2 separate regions of the Homo sapiens genome follow, and region 2 is linked to region 1. Evidence: fine-mapped expression QTL. A gene starts in region 1. The other region holds a variant in brackets. All regions are shown on one strand. Distances are between the middles of the regions. Region 1 holds the start of EWSAT1 (Ewing sarcoma associated transcript 1). Region 2 has its middle 26 kb from the start of EWSAT1.

What was found. PIP is the estimated chance that this variant, and not a neighbour inherited with it, causes the effect.
Region 2: its variant is fine-mapped to the expression of EWSAT1 in blood mononuclear cells (TOPMed, PIP 0.98).

The regions. Positions count from the first base shown.
Region 1 is chr15:69,079,140-69,082,051 of GRCh38, reverse strand. EWSAT1 (Ewing sarcoma associated transcript 1) reads right to left here and starts at 1,202. Exons shown (of 4, transcript NR_026949.1): 1 at 676-1,202.
Region 2 is chr15:69,105,810-69,108,721 of GRCh38, reverse strand. No RefSeq gene overlaps it. Among named protein-coding and RNA genes, the nearest start is that of EWSAT1, 26 kb to the right of the region's middle. The variant G/T (reference allele first, on the strand shown) is at 1,395.

The DNA.
Region 1 (2,912 bases):
AGTTCTCAACCCTGGTTGTACATTAAGGGGGGGAAAAAGCCAGTACTCAGGACTTATTACAGACTGATTAAAGAAAAGAATCTGAGTCTCCCCCCTCTGGAGAATCTGAGAGAGAAAGCTCTCTGTTCAATTTTCGTAGTTTGGATGACCTGGAAAGCCTCTATGGAGGCAGAGAGTGGGTTCTATGACCTCTGTTAGGTCCCCTTTCCCTCCCTGTGTTCCTTAGCCAGGACTTGGCAGGAAACCCTGGGATATCAACAGTTCCACAGAGCATTTTGCGCCCAGTTTTCTTGTTTTTATCTTGAGATCTCATCATCAGGGAGACTTGGAGAATAGGCCGGTAATTTTGAAACCACAACTTGGCTTCTGACTGCCTCAGGCCTTCTTGAAAGTTTCCACCAGCCAAGAGTTTCATCCAGATATCTGCAAGGGACCTTCAAGGGAACGGCTGGGAAGCTCATTGTCCCATTAGGACTCCCTATGACCTTCCCAGAGGGCCCAGCCACACAGATGCAGCCTGGAATGTGGCAGGAAGCTGCAGAACAGGCAGGAAGCCCAGCTCCACGTTACATCGCAAGCAGCCTCCAGCAGCCAGCCCTGAAATATCCCGTTTCTTCCTGATCCACCCCCACTCCCAAACACACATCTAACCAGCCAGTAAGATTCAGCAGTTACCTCTGAAACGCGTCTTGGATCTTCTGTCCTAACACCAACTCCCCAGCGCAGGAGCAATCTCCTAACTGGACTTCCAACCTCCAGTCTCTCCACCTCCAGCCCATTCTCCATGCCATGGCCAACATGATCTTACTAATCTAAGATCTTCTGGTTTGAAGATGGCATAAAGTTAGTAACCCTCCCTTCATTTTCTGGAAGTAATCCAAAAGCAAAAAGGACTTGAGCGATAAAAACACAAATTCCATTTTTAGTAAAAGTAGGAGACACCTAAACCACAAAATAGACGGAAGAGTTGCCAAAAGCAATAGAGCTTCAGCAGAGATGTTGCAGGAAGAAATAGAGCAAGGATGCTGTGCTGCAAAGTCTCTGGGACAGCCTGAAAAAGAATCCTCCAGAAGAGGAGGGGCACACCTGGATGCGGAATGCACAGAGCCCTTGTGTGCAGCAGCAGAAAACGGGTGCAGGTGCTGTGGCCTGAGCTCTGCTGGCTCAGGACTCAGACAAGCCATAGTTGTAGGAAATGGTCTGTTTCTGTGGCAACAGGGGAGGAGAGACTTTGCCTCGGGGAATCTTTGCCATTGGTTGGAAAGAATTCAAGGCTCAGTGAATTTACATCAACCCTGGGTCATAAGGAAAATTTAGCCAACCTGGAAGACAATCTTGGCCTCTCTCACACCTGAGGTCCACGGGGAAGAAAAAACATTACCTTCTTCAATAATGAGTAATATATACAAAGTTTTGACAAGAAACAAAGGAGGAAAAAAGAAAAAGCAAACAGCAAACAGCAGGTAAAGAAGATTCATCAAAAAACATTGTCATGGAGCAGATGACAATTTTAACGAGAAAATTAAGAAAACATAGCAAAGTAATTTCCCCCACAAAGAAAACACGCACATGAGAGATGAGGGAAGAGGTAATGAAACAGTGGGAGGAAATGAATCCTGAGCTGCCAGAGCTTGGGGAAGAAGTGAAAGAAAAAAAGAAAACTATCCAACCTTCACTCTTAAAAAATGAAGCCTCAAATCTGAAGCAGTAAAAGGGGAACACATACTGTGGAAACTCAATGAGAGATAGTGAGAGGAATAAGAAAAGGAGGCAAACTAAATGAAAATAAAGAATTAGAAAACAATAGGTACATTTGAAAGGCAAAGAAGAATTAATTTTATATGCATTAAATATGTCTGAAAGGGGCCGGGCATGGTGGCTCACGCCTGTATTCCCAGCACTTTGGGAGGCCGAGGCAGGCGGATCGCTAGAAGTCAGGAGTTCAAGACCAGCCTGGCCAACATGGTGAAACCCCGTCTCTATTAAAAATACAAAAATTAGCTGGCGCGCTGACACACACCTGTAGTCCCAGCTACGGGGAGGCTGAGGCAGGAAAATGACTTGAATCTGGGAGGTGGAGGTTGCAGTGAGCCGAAATCGCGCCACTGTACTCCAGCTTAGGAAACAGAGTGAGACTCCATCTCAAAGAAAAGGAAAACAAAATTCTGAAAGGGCACACAAGAAATTGATAGTATCAGTTGCTTTTAGGGAAGAAAATTGGGTTGGCCGTGAGGTAGGGTGGAAGGGGTGGAAGGAGGGCCAGGGTGGAAGGGAGATTTTTCACTTTTGTGTTTTTTAAAGTTTTGACTTGTATGAACATATTAGCTCATCAAAAACATTCAAATTAAGCAATACACACCCTGCCTCCAACACACACACACTTTCACAATCTGATTTTGTTACTGTCTGTTTAAAACCCTTCCATTGTTCTCATTTCTCTTAAGATAAAAAGCACATATCTAAAAATGGCTTATTAGTAGGGTGATCATATAATTTATTGTCCAACAGGGCACTTAAGATCAAAAAGATGCACTACAGATGTAAACTGGGACTAAGGCCATCTACTTATGAGGCAGGCCATGATCTGGCCCTTGTTTCCATCTCCAGCCTCATCTGTCACCTTCCAGCCCACAGGCTCTAACTGCAGTCTTACTGAGCTATAAGCAGCCACCCTCTTCCCTCCAGACCTCTCAGCACAAGCTGTCCCCTCTTCACAGTACTTTCCTTCTTCCAAGTCTCCCTACACCCTACACCCTACTCTTTGGCTTATTCTGTATATCCTTCGTGTCTGATTTACCTTACTTATTTAATCAGTTCTAAAATGCATGTTCTGGCCAGGCGCAGTAGCTCATGCCTGTAATTGCAGCATTTTGGTAGGTCAGAGTGGGAGGACTGCATGAGCCCAAGAGTTC
Region 2 (2,912 bases), 27 kb before region 1:
GAAAGCATCTCTATATCCATGTCTCTAAGAAAAGTGGGAGAATGAAAGAGTGAGGCAGCCATATGATTTTACCATACCTACCCTGCTCTATTTGTTTTCATTACTATCCTGGTGTCTGTAGAACTTTGAATTTGCGGTCCTTGAATACAGTACACATAGAAGAAGAAACACAGCATTTAAGAAGGGAACGGTTAGTATGGCTGTAGACGTTTAGCATAGAGAAGAAAAAGCTCAGAGGATGCATTATTGGAAGGACTATCGTAGGTCAGAGGAATCAGCCTGTGTTGCTCCAGAGGGTAGACCAGATGATGAGAGATTCAGAAAAGCGGACTTCAACTTAATAGGATGGGTTTTTCAAATAGGAATGAGTTGTCTAGAGGAATGGAGACCTGGAAGAGGTGAGCAGAGATTGTTATGGGATGGGGTCAAAAGAAGTAAGGAGAGGCAATACACATAGCCAGGAAATCTGGTACCCCCATTTATTTACCATGGCCTTGAACAAGTTATTTAACTTGATGTCTGTAAAGTGGACATTAAAATCATACTACCCTTTAGAGATGGGGTGCAGGTAAAATCAAAGATTGCCAGTAAATTATTTTGCATAACACTTAGCATGTGATAAACACTCAATAAATTCTAGCTACTATTATTTGCAATTCAGTGAAAGGCTGGATAATTCATCTCTGAGAGCATTGCCAAGTCTAAGTTCTGTGATATTATGTCTCATTCATCTCCTTTTCCTCTCTCCAAGAAGTTGCTAAAAAGAAAGAAAATGAGTGAATTTCAATCTCATTTTCTTTTATTGCTTCTCCCCCCACTCCCGCCAAGGCGCTTCTAACTCTTGAAATGGCCACAGGCTAACTATGAGAACTGCAAACTTTATATTTAGCTTCTTCTATGACCTCTTCTCTTGTACCAACCATCCTGGAAGTCTGCTAAGTTTTGCAGAAGATATGCTCATTTGAAAATGTTTGCTCATCTCCATTGCTTCCAATTTAAAGTTGATTGCCCTGAAACCTTTTATTAGTAGTGATGGTATCAATGGGCTGCATCAAGTTCAAGATCAATCAGCTCTTTATGAAATGAACCTGGAAGAAGCAGGCAGACAAATACAAAATGCTGAGCCATTAAATCAAGATGAGACCTCTTCCTTCAAACATGGGATAAATGTGTGCTGGCTGTATGGGTTGCTGGGCTTGTGGTTTTATGACTAAATTTGGTACAGAAGGGAAAAATCATGAGAGAAACACGTTTGTTCTTTTTTTAGTAAGACGGCTGTGGCAGACACTGCAAAATATACACCTATTCCTCCCTCTTCCTTACTAGTCAAAAACCCTGTTTTGTTCAGAATACCAATGTGCCCAGTTAATCACACTTCCTCAGTCCCCCTTGGT[G/T]CAGCTGGTTCTGACCAATGAAACAAAAGCAGACTTCTTGTTGCCTGAGAATAAGCCTCTTACTTGCTCAAGTCACTATTTATCAGGTGTTCTGTTACGTCTAACCAAACAAGATCCTATCTGATTCATAGGCCAGCTACGTACTAAGTGTTTCTGTTAGTTTTCACTGCTTAACACCAAAGCTTAGGGACTTAAGGCAATCTTTTTATTATGATGATTCTATGGGTTGACTGAGGCTGGGCTAGAGAATTCTTCTGCTGGTCTCTCTTGGGTTGTCATGTAGTTACAACCAGGATCCAAGCTGGCTTTGCTCACATGCCTGGCACCTTTTTTTTTTTTTTTTTTTTTTTTGACATGGAGTTTCACTCTTGTCACCCAGGCTGGAGGGCAATGGTGCGATCTCGGCTCACCGCAACCTCCACCTCCCAGGTTCAAGCGATTCTCCTGCCTCAGCTGAGTAGCTGGGATTACAGGCATGCGCCATCATGCCCGGCTAATTTTGTATTTTTACTAGAGATGGGGTTTCTCCATGTTGGTCAGGCTGGTCTCGAACTCCTGACCTCAGGTGATCCGCCTGCCTTGGCCCCTCCCAAAGTGCTGGGATTACAGGCATGAGCCACCGTGCCCAGCCACATGCCTGGCACTTTGACAGGTATAGTTGAAAGGCTGGGACCTCTCTTTCCTCCATACGTTTCCTCATGGCATTTCCACACAGCAGCTGGATCCCAAGTGAGATGTCCAACAGCGTGCATTTCAGGGTGCAAGTCTTTGACAAGCTTTGCGGGCATCATACCTGCTAATGTCCTGCTGGCCAAGCCCAGTCATTGCGAGAGGGGACTCCACAATGGTCACCAAACTAATAGTGTGGTACACCAGGGATGTTGCAGAGTGATATATTCTTTATACAGAGGAGAAGAGAGCACTGTGTAAACCTCCAAGCTCCGCCTGAGTAGTGAAGTCTTTTCCACCATGTTTTCCATGATTTCATCCTCCTTCCCCATCTTACTCATTTTTTTTCCCTCTCCTTATAAACTACCTGCCCTTCCCTCCTTAAAAAAAAGGGAAAAAATATTGGTCTATTCCCAGTTCCAAAATAACATCCCTATGAATTAGGATTTAAAACTTCTAAACTATTATTGTAAACTGATAGCCTACAGGCATGTTATGATTGGGGCAAAGGTTTTTAAAATAGGGAAATTTTATCTTAGAATCCACATTCCAAGCTTCTTTTGAAAATAAGGAAGGGCAAGCACTCCTGGGCCCACATTCTTTCATGGCAACAACTGGCAAGAGCTGACTTGAGGCCTCCGCTTGTTAGAGGGCCCAGGACTGTCCAGTTTACCACAGTCCTCACCATTCCATATAGTCTCATTCAGATTGGAGCCATGGGTTTTAATGGTGGTCTGGCTTGTCTGCCTGATGCATTTCTGTGATCTGCCTAGCCTTTGAGTTACAACCCCTTCTTTACACTTACTCTGAATTTTCTCCCTTTCACCATTCCCCGCACCCACAATTCAC